Linked DNA regions of Homo sapiens: region 2 is linked to region 1. A link means that fine-mapping ties the variant in region 1 to the expression of a gene that starts in the linked region. Tissue or cell type: prefrontal cortex. Region 1 holds a variant in brackets; the other region holds the start of a gene. All regions are shown on one strand. Distances are between the middles of the regions.

Region 1 (10,589 bases):
CACTTAAAACACTACAAGATGACTTTCTGGAGTTTGCTAAAGACAAAAACTTCCAGGTGCTGAATTTTGTGGAAACACTACCAACCTACATTGGCAGCATGATTAAGCTCCATGTGGTACCTGTGGAATCAGCAGGTATTCACTCTTTTGAAACTTGTTGGCTGTTAGATGCTTAATTATACCTAGCATTTACTTGTAAACAGCAATTTTTATATCCAGGTTCTCAGTTTTAAGAGATAGTTTATGAAGGTCTAGATTTGATTTCTTTTATTCTTTTCAGCAATAGATTAAAATTTCTCTGTAAACATATAACCCGGGTATTACCTCTCCCTGCCCTTTATGTAACTGATTAGATGAGAAGGGTTAATTGGCTAACTCTAAGTTAGGCATCAACAGTGAACTCTTTTGCAGTAAAGAAAGCTCTTCTATCAGCTAGATCAAAAGGGGCATTTATTTAATAGACTTAGACTTATATTTACATGCAGAACCCTTAAGAAAATCATCTAAAAGTGTGGAAGCTTTCGTAAATAGAAGATCCATGGGGAATAGTAAAGCTCCAGAAATATTCCAGTGGGAAAAACTAGTGTTGAACTACAATCTCTTCATGATCCTGGGGTTGAGGGAAATGGCCAGTGCTTGCTCTCTAGTGTCATATAATGTATTATAGATTCTTTGAGGGAGGAGCCCAGATCTTAATTAACTCTCTTCATAGACTCCTCTGTTACTCTGTACATACTAGATACCCTGTACATTTCACCACCTGAACTGCTTTTGCCTCACCTGGCCATGTCTTCAGCTTGCCTGTTATCTCTGGGAACCCCTTTCTTACTGCCTCTGAGGCTGGCTTAGGTGCTGTTCTGGTGGTAGCCAGCCACATTGTGGGTCCTTCAGGCTAGGGACAGCATGCATCTGGAGTGCTTGCCAGATGGTTCTTTTGTCTACATAATGAGTTTTGTCCTAATTTCATTATATGCTATCTACATAAAATGAAAAATGTCATACTGTGTAGTAGAACTGAAAAATTTTACCTTAAAGTAATATGCTGTAGGTTGAGGAGTTACTATTTAGTAGTTGAAGAACTTGAAGAGTTCCAAAGAACAGCTGCCAGATGTTTTTAAAAAGGACTTTGGAAGCTTGAAGCAACAGCATAGTTTTTTGTTTTTGTTTTTAAGAGACAGGGTCTCACTTTGTCATCCAGGCTGGAGTTCAGTGGTATAATCATAGCTCATTGCAGCCTCGAACTCCTGGGCTCAAGCGTTCCTCCCACTTCAGCCTCCTGAGTAGCTGGGACCACAGGCGCACACCACCACACCTGTCTAAATTTTTAAATTTTTTGTATAAATGGGGTCTTGCTGTGTTGCCCAGGCTGGTCTCAAATTCCTGGCCTCAAGCAGTCCTCCTGCGTTGGCCTCCCAAAGTGCTGGGATTACTGGTGTGAGCCACTGTGCCTCGCCCAAAAGCAAAGTTAATATCATGGACCAGCTGCTTGGAGTGGCATAGCCTTGCCCTAATTCTGTCACCAAGAGGCTTTTCTTCCTTCATAACCACCACCTGCATTCCTCACCTAGGTGGCCTCACTAGTACCTCTTATCACTTCCGTGCGAGGGGACTTTGTTAGACCGAAATATCTCAAGCACTAAATCATTTTTACCCTGAAAGTGATTATTGGGATTTAGGTATAGAATGGATCCCATGTGAGACATTCCCATTCATTTCACCAGGAGAAAGGAAGTTTATAATAGAAACTCTGAAGTAACTTAGCAATAACCTGCAGGTGTAAGAAGGTTTTGAATATGTTAGTGCTCAATCTCTGCTTGCTCTGAAATAAGGAAGTAGGCCAGAACACATACGAAAAGTTCATGGAAAGCATAAAACTATGGTTCTACTGACTGAGAATCCCTTCCTGCATGTTTCATCAAATGTAGTTTAGCTGCAATCAAACTTCAGGTTCCTTTATCTTTTAAGAGTCCCTTGTCACAACCAAAGCAATGTCTAGAACTACCCATTCGGCCTCTTTCAGTATTGTCAAGGGGAAAGCTTATATTTTTACTTAGGTTTATTGACTTTTTTATTTTCTTCAGATTTAGGCATTGGAGATCTAATTCCTGTGGATGTTAACCATTTGAACATTTGTAAGCCAAAGAAAAAGGATGCTTTTTTGTACCAGCGTACTTTACAATTCATTCGTGAAGCTTTAGCCAAAGACCTTGAAAACTAACAGTTGTGCTCTTCCAGTTTTCATATGTGAATTCAGTGCAAGAAACTTGGTGTTCTGTTTCTTCTTTTAAGCTCTATGCAATCATGCAAACATAGTGATCATAGCGTCAACATGGTCTGGAGTGTGTTGCAGACTACAGAACATTGTTCTCCCTTCAAGCGCTGTAAAGCACCAACCCGGAAGTGGCAGGCACAGAAGGAAGGGCTGGATTGGGCCCCTTTGGTGTAAAGAAGTCCCTGTGTGCTGCTTTATGGTTCGCAGTGTTGGGCTTGGTGACTGGAGCAAAGCTGCTGTGAGAGAGTGTCCTTTCCCATCTGTGACTTTCCTGGTGCATCCAGGAGGGGCACGGCAGGTTCTGAGGTAACTCAACTTACCATAAAAATGCCATTAAGAGAGTACCTAAAATGGAGAGAAGAATGAACTAGAACATTCAAGACTCTTTTACTTCTGGGTATTGATTTGCTGTACATTTTTAAAGTTTGAGTTTTTAGCTCAGTTCTACCTTTTATCTGACACATTATTACTAGTGTTAACTTTGTTAGACTTATTGTCATGTCTGGGTCAGTTCCTTGTATCTATTTTCGTATTCCTGAGAACAAATCTTTTTCTTAGAAAAATTCTAGCTTATAATAATTCTTTTCAGACTGTAGCTGCCTATGCTTGGAATTTGTCCTAGATAAGGATAAAGTAGCTAATCCATTATTGATCACAGTATGAAGTAAAACTATTCTAAGCCATTATATGAATTAGCAATTCTTAGTATCAAGATTCTCAGATTCTCTTTGGCTAAATAAACCTTTCTTCTTCCTTGCTCATTTGCAAGTGGTATTAATTGACCTCTATAGCATGTGAGTAGTAGATAATCATGTCGATGACCTTTTTTTCTTTAGAGTAACAGCATTATTGAGATATAATTTACATACCATAAGATTCACCCTTTTAAATTATACAATTCATTTTTGTTTTGTTTTGTTTGTTTAGAGACAGGGTCTGACTCTGTTGCCCAAGCTGGAGTGCAGTGGCATGATCATAGCTCATTGTAACCTCAAACTCCTGGGCTCAAGAGATCCTTTTGCTTCAGCCTCCCAAGCAGCTAGGACTACAGGCACATGCCACCACACTTGGGTAATTAAAAAATAAATAAATACTTTTTTGTAGAGACAGGGTCTCACTGTGTTGCCCAGGTCTCAAACTCCCGATCTCAAGCCACCCTCCCAAAATGCTGTGATTATAGGCCAGAGCCATTGTTCCCAGGCTCAATTCATTGGTTTTTAGTATAGTTCACTGAGTTGTGCAACATCATTGCTATTTAATTTCAGGCTATTTCATCATCCCCAAAAGAACCCCATACCCATGAGCAGTCAGTTCCCACCTCTGCTTTCCCAAGCCTGCGGTAAACACTAATCTGTTTTCTGTCTCTATGGATTTGGGAATTTTATGTAAATGGAATCATACAATATGTGGCCCTCTCTGCCTTCTTCCTTCTATTAGCATGTTTTCAAGGTTCATTCATGATATAGCATGTATCAGTACTACTTCATTTCTTTTTATGGCCGAAATTACTCCATTGTATGATATGCCATGTTTCTTTATCCATTCATCAGCTGATGGACATCTAGGTTCTGTTCATTTTTGTCTATGATAAATAATGCTACCATGATCATTTGTGTACAAATTTATGTGTGGATAGATGTTTTTGATTCTCTTGGGTGGAATTGCTGGTCAAATGGTAAGTCTATGTTTAAATTTTGAAGATGGTGAACTTTTGTAGAATGAGATAGTCGAAGCTAAAACTGGAGTATGGCATCTGAAGGTAAATGGCTCATCAATAAACTCGATATCAACAATTAATTGTTTCATTGTACAACAACCTAGCAAAACCCACTTATTTATTGCTGTAGTAGACATAGCAAATATGACAGTTGCTAACAACGAATGTACTACCCAATGTGATAACATGGGGAGAAGGGGTAGATATGTTTAGTACATTTTTTCTCTTTTTTTTTTTTTTTGTTTTTGAGATAGAGTCTCGCTCTGTCACCAGGCTGGAGTGCAGTGGCACGATCTCGGCTCACTGCAACCTCCACCTCCCCAGGTTCAAGCGATTCTCCTGCCTCAGCCTCCTGAGTAGCTGGGAATACAGCCACGCGCCACCATGCCCAGCTAATTTTTGTATTTTTAGTAGAAACGGGGTTTCACCATGTTGGCCAGGACGGTCTCGATCTCTGGACCTTGTGATCTGCCCGCCTCGGCCTCCCATAGTGCTGGGATTACAGGCGTGAGCCACCACACCTGGCCCTGTTTAGTAAATTTTCTTGTTCTGCTTTCTGTGAACCATGGCAGATAAACCACAGTTGAAACAACTGTTCATTAATTCAGAGTATGGAATGGAAACCCTGTTTCTTAAATTTTTAATAGAATACAGCCGTGCTTTAAAAATAAGATGTGGAAGAGATATCCAATGTATTCTTAACTAAATTAGAATAGTCTGGATAAAATTTATTATACACAAGCAAGATTAAAAGAAATGGTATAGCACATAAGCAACACAGTAAAGCAAAATAAACAAGTACAGATGGTCCCCAGCTTAACGATGGTTCAACTCACAATTTTTTGAGTTCACAATGGGTTTATCAGATTGTTAAATGCATTTTTGACTTACAATGGGTTTATGCGGTTGCAGCCCCATCGTAAATCAAGGAGCATCTGTATAAAATGATGGCTGAAGGTGCAATTCTAAAAGAAAATATAATCCCTGAACAACAAAAAAGTGATGAAGGAAAAGGTGGAAAGCACTTGAAAATCAAATCAGCACAATTACAGAAGTAGAAACAGCACATTAAAGAATAGAAATGGGGCTGGGTGTGGTGGCTCACGCCTGTAATCCCAGCACTTTGGGAGGCGAAGGTGGGTGGATCACAAGGTCAGGAGATCGAGACCATCCTGACCAACGTGTTGAAACTCCGTCTCTACTAAAATACAAAAAAAAAAAAAAAAAAAAAA[AT/T]TAGGTGTGGTGGCACGCACCTGTAATCCCAGCTACTCAGGAGGCTGAGGCAGGGGAATTGCTTGACTCCAGGAGGCGGAGGTTGCAGTGAGCTGAGATCTCGCCACTGCACTCCAGCCTGGGCGACAGAGCAAGACTTCGTCTCAAAAAAAAAAAAAGAAATGGATGAAAATTCTATCAATAGAGAGGTGGCTGGATGGATATGGAACCACAATAGATGCAGAAGCAAAATAAAATAATTAGAAGATAATAGATAAGCTGTTCAATTGTAAAGGCAATAGACAGACAGGCATTGTCAACATCACCTCAAGGAATAGGGACCTATGTGCCTTTCCTGACAAATTTGCTTGTTAATTCAATCCAGACATTTAAAAAAAAGGGAATAAAAATAGCACACTTTAAAATGCAAACAAAAACCCTAAAAACAAAAACACTTATGTTAGAAAACAATAATGTTGGAGAGAAAGAATTGTGTGCTCAGCTAAGTTGCCCTTGAAATGGGTACAAAGGTAATGGACCAGCATGCTCAAGCCTGCAAGAATTGGGGAATACTGTGCAGTTCTAGTTTTACCTTCTTAGCCTAAGGTAAGTTTATTAGATAATGACATATAGTATGCCATCATACTATATGTCATTAATATTAAACATAATTTACAAACCATATGACATATAGCATACTATCTAAATATTAAACATTAAAAATATATGTATTCTAGAATATATATTTAATAACCTATATTTAATAAACATGTTTTATATATTCTAGAAATCTATGTGTATATGTATAGTAAAATGCCAGACACTATAATACACATAGAAAGATTTCTAAAGTAATGTTTATGATTACTTCTGGGTAGATTTTGGGTTAACTTTTCATATTTTAATGCTTAATTTTATGAGTATTTGTTACTTTTTTCTTTTCTTTTCTTTTTTTTTTTTTTTTTTTGAGACAGAGTCTCACTCTTGCCCAAGCTGGAGTGCAATGGCGCGATCTCGGCTTGCTGCAACCTCCGCCTCCTGGGTACAAGCGATTCTCCTGCTTCAGCCTCCCAAGTAGCTGGGATTAAAGGCACCTACCACCCACACCCGGCTAATTTTTGTATTTTTAGTAGAGATGGGAGTTTCACTGTGTTGGCCAGGCTGGTCTCAAATTCCTGACCTCAAGTGATCCACCCACCTCCGTTTCCAAAAGTGCTGGGATTACAGGCGTGAGCCACTGCACCCAGCTGAGTATTTGTTACTTTGATACACAATTTATTTTAAAAAGAAAGCTCTGTAAAAGTCAAAATCCAAATCATAGCCACTGTGCTCACTGGTCAAGTTATTGCAACATAAGATGGAATATTAGTGAAAAAGGAATCTTAAAAAATAATAACAGGCTTCTGCTTTCAGTAATAGCAGGATAGATCATTTGGATCTAATCTCCCAGTGAGGACAATTAAAGAATCTAGACGAAATGTTTTTAATTGATCAAAGAGCTACAAAGAAAATAATAATGATTTATTGGCAAAAATAAATTATTATTATTATTATGAGACAGAGTCTTGCTCTGTCGCCCAGGCTGGAGTGTGCAATCTCGGCTCACTGCAACCTCCGTCTTCCGGGTTCAAGCAATTCTCCTGCCTCAGCCTCCCAAGTAGCTGGGATGACAGGCATGTGTTACCATGCCCAGCTGATTTTTGTATTTTTAGTAGAGGCAGGTTTTCACCATATTGGTCAGGCTGGTCTCGAACTCCTGACCTCAGGTGATCCCACCACATCGGCCTCCCAAAGTGCTGGGATTATAGGCGTGAGCCACCATACCTGGCCCACTATTTTATCTATAGAAATAGCATCCAGGAGGCCGGGCGTGGTGGCTCATTCCACAGACTGAAGAAGTTAATCCAAAGCAGAGCATATAAAAATAAATCTGCATCTATACAGAGAATAGGGACACTGCAGAAAAGCCAAGACAAGAGGAAGATCTTAAAAGTAGTTAGAGAAAAATGTGTAAAGAACAACAGTTAAAATTGCTGCTGTTGAGAAGTCCTAAGTCAATGGAAGCCAGAAGACACTGGAATGATATTGTCAATGTGCTAAAAGAAAACCACTTGCAATCTAGAATTATACATCCAGTACAAATCATAAACACTTAAAATATTAAGATGAAATGGACATTTTATATAAAGAAAAAGAGTTTACTGCCAGCAGACCTTCATTAATGGAAGGCAGAAGGCAAGTGATCCAGCCAGAGGCACTGGAATTCAAGAAAGAATGTGGAGTGAAAAAAGAGGTAACTACTAGGATAAATTAAATAAAAATTTTATAAAACATAATATATCAAGTGGGTGTTAAAATATGTAAAATTAAAATACACAGCAACTATAGCATATAAGTTGGGGGTGGGTAAATGGAGTTAAGTGCTCCAAGGTTGTTGTGTTATTTAGGAGGAAGGTAAAACAATGATTATCACTAGACTTTGAGAATTTAATGATACGTATTTTGTTTCTAAGATAACCAATAATAGACAAAAAATAGTGTATATAATGAATTCCAAACTAGGAGAGAAGAAAAAGGGGAATAAAAAAAAAAAATCTTAAGGCACAAACAGAGGGGAAAAGAAATAAGGAACAGATGGTACTAAGAGAAAGCACAAAATGGCATGGCAAGTGAAAACCCAAATATAGTAATAATTGCATTAAATGTAAATGAGCTAAATGCCCCAGTTAAAAGATAGTGTGTCAGACTGGATAAGAAATAACACCCTACTATATGTGTTTATAAGAGACCCACCTGACACAATCAAGTGAAAAAAGAGGCACAAGTTGCCAATGTTAGGAAGGAAGAGGAAATATCACTACAATGCACACATTACAAGATAAGAGGATATTAATAGATACTTTCAGGCCAATACTACTCAATTTTTAATAGAAAACTCCAAGGAAAATACAGCTTACCCAAGTTGCCTATGAAATAGAAAACTTTTATAGTCCTATTCCTATAAAAGGAATAGAATAAGTGGTTTTAAAATCTCACAAACTATAGGCCCAAGTGAATTCAATGTACTGTTCCTTACTGGTCAGGAAGGACTAGCCATATTTATGACTTCGAGATTATCAGTATATTCTTACTGCTGAAAATCATCAGAGAACATTTATGACCTATATTTCATGTATTAAAATTAGCTTAGAACAAACCTAGACAGAACTTGACTGGTGAGTGCTACCGAAAGTTTAAGGAGGAAATAGTTCCAATGTTATCAAGTTTTCCCAGTTAATAGAAAAAGAGTGTAGTCCCCAGCTCATTTTATGAGGTTAACAAAACTCTGATACCAAAACCATTCAAGGACAGTATAAAAAAGGGACAGTTACAAGCCGTTCTCATGGATGTAGCTGCAAAAATCCCAAGCAAAAATATTGACAAATTAAAGCCAGCAATATTTAAGGGGGTAAAATAATCTCCCCAAGTTGGAGTTACGCAATGAATGAATGCAAGGTTTGCTTAGCACTGAAAAATTGATCAATGTAATTCCCCAAATTAAACAAAAGGAAAAATCATAATCATTGCAATACACACAAAATATCTGATAAAATTCAACCACTATTCATGCAAAAGATAAACTTAGCAAGCCAGGAAGAGAATTTTGTCAATAAAGGATATTAAAAGAAAAAAACAACAACAGTAAACATCATACTTAGTGGTAAAAATATTAACATCTTCCCTCTGAGAACAGGAATAACACAAGAATGCCTACCAGCAGCATTTTAAACATCGTCCTAAATGTCCTAGCCAACTCTGTAAGGCAAGAAAAAGACACAAAGATACAAGGATGAGAAAGGAATAAACAAAATTCATTGTTTGCTAATATGATTATTTACATAGAAAATCCAAAAAAACCACAGATACCATGTTTTATCAATTCCAAGACACATTTCACAATATTTGAACATCTCTGTAATTGGGCTGCATCTCACAATAGCTACTGAGTCTTAGTTGGAAGCCGTCTTAAGAATGATGGTACATAAATGGTGTGTCTGATAATTGATGGTATACTAGGTGTATCAAAATACAGTAAATTGTTAGAATTTTGAGAGTTTGGCAAGGTTGCTGATGCATTCAATATAAAAAGTCTGTAAGTATACTAGTAAAAAATAGCAAATGAATTTTAAAATAAGTATTGTCTGTTAGATATAATAATGACATTAAGGTTATGAAAGAAAATGTTGGAGATACACGTTGAAAGTACCGAGGAATCAAGTATGATAGCAGAATTGCTTTGAAATATTTCAGCAAAGGAAAAATATATAAAGCAAATATAGCAAAGGGTTATTACTGTTAAATCCCAGGTGACAGATATGCGAGGGTCCAGGCTATTCCCTCTGATTTAATGTATGTCTGAAACTTTTTACAAGTTAAAAACTAAGAAACATCAAGGAAAACCTTAAATGAAGAGATGTGATGGGTTCTTGGACTGAAGACTCAATACCGTAAAGCTGTCTATTCTATTCCATGCAATCCCAAAAATTGCAACAGGTTTTTAAAAAATGAAACTTCAATTGATTTTAAAATTGATCTAAAAATACAAAGACTCAAAAATAGCCAAGATACTCTTAAAGAAAAAGAATATGGTGAGAGTGCTTATCAGATAACAAAGTTAAATGAAATAAGGCAACGTTGTATTGGCACACGGATAGACAAGCAGGCCAATGCTACAGAACACGGAGAGCCCAGAAGGTCTACATTCTGGAACAGCTGTATGAGCTGCTCAGGGAAACCTCTCCCACAGAAAGACATCTATTAAACTGGTCAAAATTAGCAAAAGCCATCATTCAATGTCTCTAGAGATTGACCAAAAGGCTGACAACAAATCGTGAAACATTTATTCAGCAAGATCTAAGGAATCTTGGTAGGAGCAAGGCGAAGGCATCACTTTGGAACTAGAACTAGAGCCTTCACCATCCCCCACAGATCTGCCTTGCACAAAGACCTGTTCCAGCAGGTAGAGTGTAATTGACAGCAAATCAATTTCTCTCTCTCTCTCTCTCACACACACACACACAATTTTGTACCCTATGACTAAAAAAAAAAAATTATATTGATGAAACCACTTTGCAAATCAATCCTCCACATGGCCACATCGAACGTTAACACATTTTTAAAAGTAGATGGTTTTCTAGGTCATAGTCTCAGGTCACAGGCCAATAAAATTAGGGCTAAGTAATTTAAAATGCCAAAAAAAAAAAAAACAAAAAACCCAAAATCAAAAATAAAAACAAAAAACCCTTAACTATTTGGAAATTATACAGTCTCCTAAATAACCAATGGATCAAAGAGAACGCAACGACAAATTACAATCTAGCAATTAATGACAAGGAGGAAATTTCATTC
Region 2 (10,589 bases), 60 kb before region 1:
ATGGCAACAAAAGCAACCTTCACCACTATCATACACAAATCATAATGCATGCGCACGCTAAAAACCACCCCCACCAGCACCACGACAGTTTACAAATGCCATGGCAATATCTAGAAGTTACCCCGTATGGTCTGGACTGGGGACTCCTGGTTCCACAGAATCCCTGCCTCTTTTCCAGAAAACTCACGAATAATCCACCCCTTGTTTAACATATACTCAAGAAATGGCCATAAAATAGCCAGTTAGCAGGCCCGCCTGCTTCCCACCCTCCCCACTCCACTCTGCCTATGGGGTAGCCACCCTTTTATTCCCTCATTTTTAATAAACTTGCTTTCACTTTACTCTGTGGCTCATTCTTGAATTCTTTCCTGCATGAAGCCAAAAACCAACTTGGCTTCCAGGGCTGAGCCTCAATTTTGGTATTCACCTGCAACAGCTGTAGAAGATCCTTGAGTGGTCTGCCTGTAAACTCCAGACCTATCAAATTCCATACTCCAATACACCTAAATGCTTCATACAATCCATGGATATTATGAAGTAATAAACAGACTTATACTGATAATCATATTATTAACAGGCTTCTCCTTGGCATCAAATATGGACATGAGGGAAACTGAAGGACTTTTCCAGTTACCATCCTAACATCTGCATCTAACTGTGAAAGGGAATCCACTAGCACTGGCCATACCCTTTCCTTTGGGAATCTATGTTATTTCTTAGGCCCAAAATCTTTTTGGAAGACTTGTGTTTTTGGGAAGACAGAGTTACCCTTTTGAAAAATTGTGCAGACTACACTTTAGAATTCACTTCAAAGGGAAAAATTAGTTTTGCAAGGATGGTACCTAACCTGCAAAATAAAATTTAATAGTCCTGGTGCAAAACACTTCTCCACAGGGAAACATTATTAAACTGAAGCTGATTAACAGTATTATTGCTTCTCAAAATTTAAATGCATCTTAACAAGATTCTTTGTATGCACAATTCTGATTTAGTAGATTTAGGGTGAGGTCTGAGATTTTGCATTTCTAACAAGCTCCAGATGATGCTATTACTGCTAGTCTGGGGATTACCCTGAAGTGCAAGGTGATGGACAGTCATTAGAGAGACCAGGTAGAATTCAGAGGTTAGATACGGGACAGCAAACCGGGCACTGAGACTTCAGAGTCTCCCCAGAGTTTTGTTCTTTAAGATGCAATCCAGTCATCTTTTTTTTCAAATTAAAACGTAGGTTTAATGCAATTCCAACCAATATGCCAAAAGGATTATTTTGGAAACAGACTAAGTTATTTCAAGGTTATTCTAGAATAGGCAACAAGAAAGATGAATGTGGGAAGGGATGAAAGAGAATAGCAAGGGGAGTAAAATTATGTGATTAAGGAGGCATCAAGCATCATTAAGAAAGGAAATAATGGTGGAGAACTAGATATTTGGCAAAATGAACAGACAAAAACACCCAAAACAAAAAAGAAGCTAGGCTGGGTGCAGTGGCTCATGCCTGTAATCCCAGCACTTTGGGAGGCCGGGGCAGGTGGATCATGAGGTCAAGAGATCGAGACCAGCCTGGCCAACATGGTGAAACCCCATTTCTACTAAAAATACAAAAATAAAATTAGCCGGGTGTGGTGGTGTGTGCCTGTAATCCCAGCTACTCGGGCAGCTGAGGCAGCAGTATCGCTTGAATCCAGGAGCCAAGATCGCGCCACTGCACTCCAACCTGGCAACAGAGCAAGACTCCGTGTCAAAAAAAAAAAAAAGAAGCTAATTTAGATCCTTATCTAATAATATGTCTCTTCTCTGAATAAATTCTAGATGAATGAATCTAACACACCAAGAAAAACACAAAATCCCCACAAGAGAGAAGTGAATATTTAACAAACCTATGCCACTCCTCCCAATAAATTCTAGATGAATGAATCTAAAACACCAAGAAAAACACAAAACCCTCAGAAGAGAGAAGTGAATATTTAACAAACCCAGGGGTGAAGATTAAACTTAGAATTGGAAGAAACGAGGGAAAAAAAGTGATAGCTGACACTCTGTGTATGTGTATCCTCTGTATTTAAAAATAACACTAAAGGCCAACGAGGAAAATGTTTATGTTATGTCAAATTAATAGGAAAATAAGTACATCAAACCTAGTGCCTTCAAAAGACAACAGAACAGTGTGTTTAGAACTTCTGGGGTCCAGATCCCACCCCCTTTGCTTTTCCAAGTGAATACCTCTCCCCCGCAGTGGTTTACTCTCATCAACGTACATTCTAGTCTTTCACATTAAAATAAAAATAGCAAGAACCTGAGCCCCTCACCATGTCCTTCGTCAGCTACCAATCCAGTTCTCTATGAGATTGCTCATGATCACAGTAAAACTTCTCCGAAGTCTCCATCTCCACCTCCTCACCTCCCTTTCCTTTTCCACAGTACTTCAATCTGGCATCTCCCCACCACTCCATTCAAATGGCTCTCATCAAAACTCCAGTCTTCATCTCATGCCAGTTCTCAATCAGTGCCCAACACAGCCGCTCATCCCTACAAAACACTTCCTCCTTTGGCTTTCCTCCCTCCAGCCTCACTGGCTATTTTCTTCTTAGTTGCCTTTGTTGGTGTCTCCTGTATCAAAACTCCAAATCTGCACTATGCATAAGGTAGCCCACTAGTCAGGTCACTACAGAGTCCTTGAAACACGGTTAGTCTGTGAGATGTGCTGTAAAATTAAAATATCCATTCGACTTTGAAGATGAAGATTTTTTTGAAGACTTAGTATGTGTTCAAAGCATAGTGTTTTGCATAGACAGGGTTAAACAAAAGATATTAACTTCACCTGTTTCATTTTACGTTACTTTTAAGATGGCTAGAAAAAATGTAAGACTATATCTGTGGCTTGCATTAGATTTCTATTGGCTAGTGCTGTTCTAAATGTTGGCAGTGTCCTAGGGTTTGGTCTTGCTCCTCCTTAGCCTTGCCATCACAGTAAACAGTATCATTATCCATGCACTGGCTCATATTAGAGGCACCGAAAGTAGACAGTAGTATTTTCAGACAATGGGAGTGTCCACAGAGCAGGGTTCCCGGGGTTCCTGGACACTGGATTGCTTTGAGGAACTCAACTCTGCCCATTTATGGTTTTTAGTTTCTCCTCTGGAATGTACCTAAAGGAATTTAAGAAACCTCCATTTGGCTCTGTTGTTTTTCTCTTTTTTAAAGTCCACAGTTTGTAATGGTAAAGACTTAAGCAAGTTCCTGAACTCTTTCAGGCCCTAAAATTCATCATGTTTGAGGAGAATGCAAGCACTGTTTCTCTAAAGACGACTCATCTAACAAATATGCTGCCTCTGATCATGCCAGTTCCATCAATTCAACAGAGGGACTGAAATCTGGCACCAGGAGCTTTGCAACAAAATCTGTGCCACTTGTTAAAAGCGAAAGACTTGATTTCATCCATATCTTAAAAACAACAGGGTTTTAGAAAAGACATACATACAAGTCAAGATTCAATATTTAAACTTAAAACTCATGCAGTATCAAAACTACTAACCATTCTATAAGCACTCCTTTCAAGACGTTGACCATGTTTTCTCAGAAGGTTCAGATGACCTGAAGAATGCTAATAAAAAGAGTAAGGTAACATTAAATTAAAAATCATTAACTTTCATATACTTTGGGGATCTGCCTCTGAAACGAGGCAAAATAATTAAATGTCAATATTTAACAGTTAAGTCTATGAAAGACAGTTAACATTAAGAAAAAAGACATTCTGATTTTTTAACAAAATTAAAATGAGTCTACTTGGAATATTAATGCCACATCTTACTCGCCAGCCAATTCTACCCAAGGTCAATTAGCCCTAATAGAAGCAAGAGGCCTAACTCTACACCAGTGTGCCCAACCCAGGTATAAACCGTCCATTATTCAAAGGATTTCTTTTCCCATTCAGGAGAATGACAAAGGGTAAGATCCTGGGAGACAGGAATCAAAGAAGATAGTTCTGAAAGGTGCTTCAAAAATTATACAGTGAGCCCAACCACCTCCTTTTAGTTTATATTTTATTTTACTGAGACAGGGTCTGGCTCTGCCGCCCAGGCTGTAGTGCAGTGGCGCGATCTCTGCTCCCTGCAACCTCTTGCCTCCTGGGTTCAAGCGATCCTCCCACCTCAGCCTCCCGAGTAGCTGGGACTACAGGCATGCACTACTAAGCCCAGCTAATGTACTGTGTTGTATCGTGTGTGTGTGTGTGTATATATATACACACTTTTATATATAATATATAATATACAATATATAATATATAATATACAATATATTATATATAATATACAATATATTATATAATATATAATATACAATATATTATATAATATATAATATACAATATATTATATAATATATATTATATATTATATAATATACAATATATTATATGTAATATACAATATATGTAATATACAATATATTATATGTAATATACAATATATGTAATATACAATATATTATATATAATATACAATATATTATATATAATATACAGTATATTATATATAATATACTGTATATTATATATAATATACAATATATTATATAATATACAATATATTATATATAATATACAATATAATATATATAATATATAATATATATAATATACAATATATTATATATAATATATAATATACAATATAATATTATATATAATATATAATATACATATTATATATATGTATTATATATAATATACGTATTATATATAATATACATAATATACATATTATATATTATATATAAAATAAATATATATTATATATAAAATACATATATAATATATATATATGTATATATACACTTCGAGACAGAGTCTCACTCTGTCGCCCAGGCTGGAGCGCAGTGTCGTGATGTCGGCTCACTGCAACCTCTGCCTCCCGGGCTCAAGCGATTCTCCTGCCTCAGCCTCCCAAGCAGCGGGGACTACAGGCGCCCGCCACCACGCCAGGCCAAATTTTGTATTTTTAGTAGAGGCAGGGTTTCACCATGTTGGCCAGGCTGGTCTCGAACTCCTGATCTCAAATGATCCACCTACCTCGGCCTCCCAAAGTGCTGGGACAACAGGTGTGAGCCACCGCGCCAGGCCAATTTATTGTATTTTTAGTGGAGACGGGGTTTCACCATGTTGGCCAGGCTGGTCTCGAACTCCTGGCCTCAAGTGATTTGCCCGCCTCGGCCTCCCAATGTGCTGGGATTGCAGGCGTGAGCCACCGCGCCCGGCCTCAGCCACCTCATTTTACATATGAGGAGACCAAAGGAAGAGATTAAGCCGTAGTTCCTGGCCAAAGGAAAAAAGTACAAGCCAGATCTCCAGATCTTGTGCCCCTTCACTAAATAAATCACGTCCCGTGCGGACCTAGGCTGGAAACAAACCACTCAGCGTACGCCCATTTAATTAACTTCCACTTACACCTGGGCGCAGGGCGAGCCCTAGCCCCACAGGAAACCCACGATTAAACGAGGGGGGGACTGCCGTGCGGCCCCGCCAGGAAGGGCCCGGAGAGAGTGGGGGACACCGCCCTGTGCCCCCAGCACCCGGTGGACAGGCTTCTGGGGCTTTTCTCTTCCTCTCCCCTTTCTTTGGGACCCCTCAGTGTTCCCACACCCCACTTTCCCCAGCCGCTCGGACGCTCGCCACACACCTCGGCCCACAGATGCAGAAGCGCCTCGGCGTTGCCGGCAGAGTGCGCCTGCGCCGATACGCCATCGCGCTAGGGACGCTATTGTGGGTGGAGCCAGCCGGCGGGAGGCGGGCCCAGAGCGGGCCGAGGGGGCGGGGTCACGAGCCGCCAGCCGCCGGGTGGAGGGTCCCGGCCGGGAGCCGCGGAAAGAGTAGGGCTCCCCAGACAACGGGGTCCGACGAGCAGTTGGGCACGGGCTGAGTCCGCCTGCCGGCAGGTAGGACGTGAAGGCAGGGGTGGTGTGGGGGCGGACGGGGGCGTCGGCGCAGCTGGGCGCGGTGGGGAGCGGAGAATGGGGAGGGCAGGGACCGGGCACGGCCGAGCACCGCCGTCTGGCGCGCGGACCGGACCGACCAGCTGACGCTCGGCTGGGCGTGAGGGCCTCTCTCTCTGGTGGTCGCGAGCCTGACTCGTCTTTCCCTGTCGCTGCCTTTCTCTGGCTGCTGTCGAGGCCTTGGGGAGTGCACCTGCCGGTCCGTCTTCCCGGGCTCGGTAGTCACGGAGAGATGAGGAGGAGGAGGAAAGGGCCTCACCAGTCACTTCTGAGCCTTGCAGACCACCGCTTCCTGCTCCCTCTCTAACCCCAGAGATGGAATAGATTGAATGCTGAGAGAGCTCTAAACTCGGCAACGGTCATTTTAAAGTGAAAGACCCCAGAAGGTTCTAAAGTTACTCCCTTTCCCCAAGTCTGTTCTGTAAGTCTAAAGGAACACTGTCATTATTTTTACTAGTTGAGATATGAGATTCTTGTTTTCTGTTCCTTAGGTTAAATTGTACTTCCCGCATTAAGCTCATGCTGCCTTTTTTTTTTTTTTTTTTGAGATGGAGTCTCGGTCTGTCTGCCAGGCTGGAGTGCAGTGGCGCGATCTGGGCTCACTGCAACCTCCGTCTCCTGGGTTCAAGCAATTATCCTGCCTCATTCTCCCTAGTAACTGGGATTACAGGCGTGCGCTACCACGCCCGGCTGATTTTCGTATTTTTAGTAGACACGGGGTTTGTCCATGTTGGCCAGGCTGGTCTGGAATTCCTGACATCAGGTGATCCCCCGCCTCGGCCTCCCAGAGTGCTGCGATTACAGGTGTGAGCCACCGCGCCCGACCTCATGCTGCCTTTTTTTTTTTTTTTTTTTTTTTAACATCGTGTGTGTTCATGTGATCGCTAAGGAACCCAGCTCTTCCATTTAGTTCCCTCTTTCTATCCCTCAAATCTTTTCCAACTGGTGATTTCCATATTGTTGCACTCTCTTTAAAATAAAAAAATTGCCTCCAAGTCTTCTTCTTCCCAAGTATCTTTTATTTGCTTTTTTTCATCTTGCATACATTCTCTTCCTTGATCTCATCAGTTCCATTTTTGTGCACTTGATGTGTGTCAGCTATTATTCTAGACGCTTGGGATACAATGGTGAACAGGTAACTAATTTTGGTGGGGGCAGAGAGACTCTGAAATCAGTTAAGGAATAAGTACCATTTGGTGATGTGATAAAGAGTGACTAGAGGGGTTATTTTGGCCAGGGGGATGTCAGAAATGGCCTTAATTTCTGCATTTAAAAACTTCTGTATACCAGTAACAATTAACTAGGAGTTTTAATAATAAAAAGACACTATTCATAATGGCATTCAAAACTAAAGGTACCTAGAAATAGATGAACCTAAAGCTGTGTAGTCCTTTAGACAGAAAATTGTAAGGCTCTGTTGGAACACAAAAGATGACCCAAGTAAATGGTGAGATATACCGTATTAATAGATGGAAAGACTCAACAAAAAGATGTCAGTTTTCCTCAGTTCTACGAATTCAGTGTAATGCCAATTAAAATCACCATATTGTTTTATGGAATTTGCCATGCTGAACTTAAAATTTATATGGAAAGGCAAGGGACCAAGAATAGTGAAGTCAATTTTGAAGAAGAAGAAAAATAAGGTCTCTCCCTATCAGATACCAAAGCTTAATATAAAGTTGTAATTATTAAGATGGTATGATATTGATTCAGGGATAGAGAATTAGATTCATGGAACAGAATAGAGACACTAGAAACATACCTATTTACATACGGGAGTTTAGTATACCACTAAGTGGTATTGCAAAGCAGGGGGAAAGCATAGACTATTCAATAAAGGATGATGAAATATATGGTTGCTGAGATATCTGGCATTGTTATGGTATACAGACAGGATTAGATTCTTACTTTCAAACTATTGACAACAGTTTCCAGATAAAGACCTAAATGTGAATGGCACAGCTGCAAGGTATTTGGAAAGGAATATAAGAGACCATTGTCTCTAGGAAAGATTTCTTTTTTGTTTGCTTTGTTAAATCTTGTTACACATAAGATTTATCATGTTAACCATGTTGAGTTGTTGAGTTCAGTGACATTCACATTGTGCAACCAGCACTACTATCTATCTCCAGAACTTTTTTTTTAAATGTCTCTGAGAAGGATTTCTTAAGTTACAAAAAGCACCTTTGAGGTGTCATTTTATTACTCCAAATGAGAGATGATGTTGGCTTGAACTAGACAAGAGTGTAGCAGTGAATACAGAGAAAAATGGATGGATTTGGGGGTATGTTTTGATGGTAGAGAAGAGCAACTCTGCGTGGTTTAGATGTAGAGTAAGGGGAAAACAAGGAATCAAGGGCAACATCTGTTTTTTTGCTTCAGTTAAGAGGTAGATCATTTACCATTTACAATCAAAAAGCATTGACCATTTGATGGATAGTGATGGAGAAGATTTGTGGAGGAAGAGTTTGGGGAGAAAAAGTAAAGAATTCTCTTTTGGACAGTTGAGTATGAAAGGCCTGTTGGACATCCAAGTGGAAATGTTCCAATAGCTGTTGGATAGATAGGTCAGGAAAGATCGTAGCTAGAGGTACTCTGAGATCACTGGCATATAGATATTAAGAACTGGGCCGGGCACGGTGGCTCACGCTTGTAATCCCAGCACTTTGGTAGGCCGAGGCGGGTGGATCACGAGGTCAGGAGATTGAGACCATCCTGGATAACACGGTGAAACCCCGTCTGTACTAAAAATACAAAAAAATAGCTGGGCGTGGTGGCAGCCGCCTGTAGTCCCAGCTACTTGGGAGGCTGAGGCAGGAGAATGGTGTGAACCTGGGAGACGGAGTTTGCAGTGAGCCGAGATCGCGCCACTGCACTCCAGCCTGGGTGACAGAGTGAGAGACTCTGTCTCAAAAAAAAAACCAAAAAACAAAAAACTGTGGTGTGTTGGAATCAGCTGTGTTACACAGAAAACAAGATAATACTGGCTTAAATATGTATGTAATTGCATAGGTAGGCAGCCATGCTTTTATGGAAGCAGCTCTGTAATCATCAGGGACTCGGATTCTTCTATCTGGCTGCTCTACCGTCCTTAATAAGATGCTTGGTGTTAAGATGACTGCTTTAATTCAAACTGTCAGTTGCTCATTCTAGCAAGAGGGAGGAGGGAAGGAGGAAGAAAGGCACATACCCTTCTTTTTAAGGACACTTTTCAGAAATTGCACATGACACATCCACTCATATTTCATTAGCCAATTCTTTGTAAGTGCCCATAGTTAACTAGAAAGAAAGAAAGGTGATGTAGTCTTTTTTGTTGTCTGTGTACCTAGCTACAACTCACGTTTTATTAATCAGAATGAAAGCATGAAATGATGTTTCACTCTGGCTTCCTCCACCAGGGCAATGAAGCTACTGATATGAAGATCCCAGTGACCTCCATATTGTTAAACTTAATGGAATTTTCAAATATTTGTTTTATTTTTAAATTATAATCTCTTCCCTTTTATTTTCTGTGTCTTTCTTAGTCTCAAAATTTCTCCGTTCTCTACTTAAAATCAGTGTTTCAGATTTTATGTAATCACCGTCATAATATATATATATATTTTTTTGAGATGGAGTCTCGCTCTGTCGCCCAGGCTGGACTGCCGTGGCGCAATCTTTGCTCACTGCAAGCTGCACCTCCTAGTTTCACGCCATTCTCCTGCCTCAGCCTCCTGAGTAGCTGGGACTACAGGTGCCCGCCACCACACCCAGCTAATTTTTTGAATTTTTAGTAGAGATGGGGTTTCACCGGGTTATCCAGGCTGGTCTCGATCTCCTGACCTCGTGATCCTCCTGCCTCGGCCTCCCAAAGTGCTGGGATTACAGGCGTGAGCCACCGTGCCTGGCCCCATAATCTTAAAGGTGCTTTTAAATAGAAATTGACAAGCAGACTCTAAAATTATGTGGAAGTACCAAGGACCTAGAATAGTCCGTCTTGAAAAGGAAGGACACAGCTGGAAAATTTATACTACTAGCTTCAAGACTTACTTTAAAAACTACAGTAATCTGCCTGGTGCGGTGGCTCACACCTGTAATCCCAGCACTTTGGGAAGCCGAGGCGGGTGGATCACGAGGTCAAGAGTTCAAGACCAGCCTGGCCAAGATGGTGAAACCCTGTCTCTACCCAAAATACAAAAATTAGCCAGGTATGGTGGTGGGCATCTGTAATCCCAGCTACTTGGGAGGCTGAGGCAGGAGAATTGCTTGAACCTGGGAGGCGGAGGTTGCAGTGAGCTGAGATCAGGCCACTGCACTCCATCCTGCCTGGGCGACAGAGTGAGACTCTGTCAAAAAGAAAACAAAAAACAACAAAAAACCTACATAATCTAAACAGTGCAGTGTTTATATAAGGATAGATAAATAGATCGATGGAGTGGAATAGGTCCATACATATGTATTCCATTAGGGTTTTTTGTTTGTTTGTTTTGAGATGTGGGTCTCACTGTATTGCCTAGGCTGGTGTTGGGCTCCTGAGCTCCAGCAGTCCTCCTGCCTCAGGCTTCTGAGTAGCTGGTATTACAGGCATGTGCCGCAGATATAGTCAGTTGATTTGTGGTCTC

The links. PIP is the estimated chance that this variant, and not a neighbour inherited with it, causes the effect.
Region 2: SERAC1 starts here. The variant in region 1 is fine-mapped to the expression of SERAC1 in prefrontal cortex (BrainSeq, PIP 0.94).

Annotation. Positions count from the first base shown.
Region 1 is chr6:158,102,995-158,113,583 of GRCh38, reverse strand. SERAC1 (serine active site containing 1) reads left to right here. Exons shown (of 17, transcript NM_032861.4): 16 at 1-135; 17 at 2,082-4,065. The coding sequence ends at 2,218. Among named protein-coding and RNA genes, the nearest start is that of SERAC1, 60 kb to the left of the region's middle. The variant AT/T (reference allele first, on the strand shown) is at 5,222.
Region 2 is chr6:158,163,482-158,174,070 of GRCh38, reverse strand. SERAC1 (serine active site containing 1) reads left to right here and starts at 5,809. Exons shown (of 17, transcript NM_032861.4): 1 at 5,809-5,931. GTF2H5 (general transcription factor IIH subunit 5) reads right to left here and starts at 5,721. Exons shown (of 3, transcript NM_207118.3): 1 at 5,676-5,721; 2 at 3,533-3,601. The coding sequence starts at 3,567. RefSeq lists silencers at 5,722-5,901, 5,942-6,011.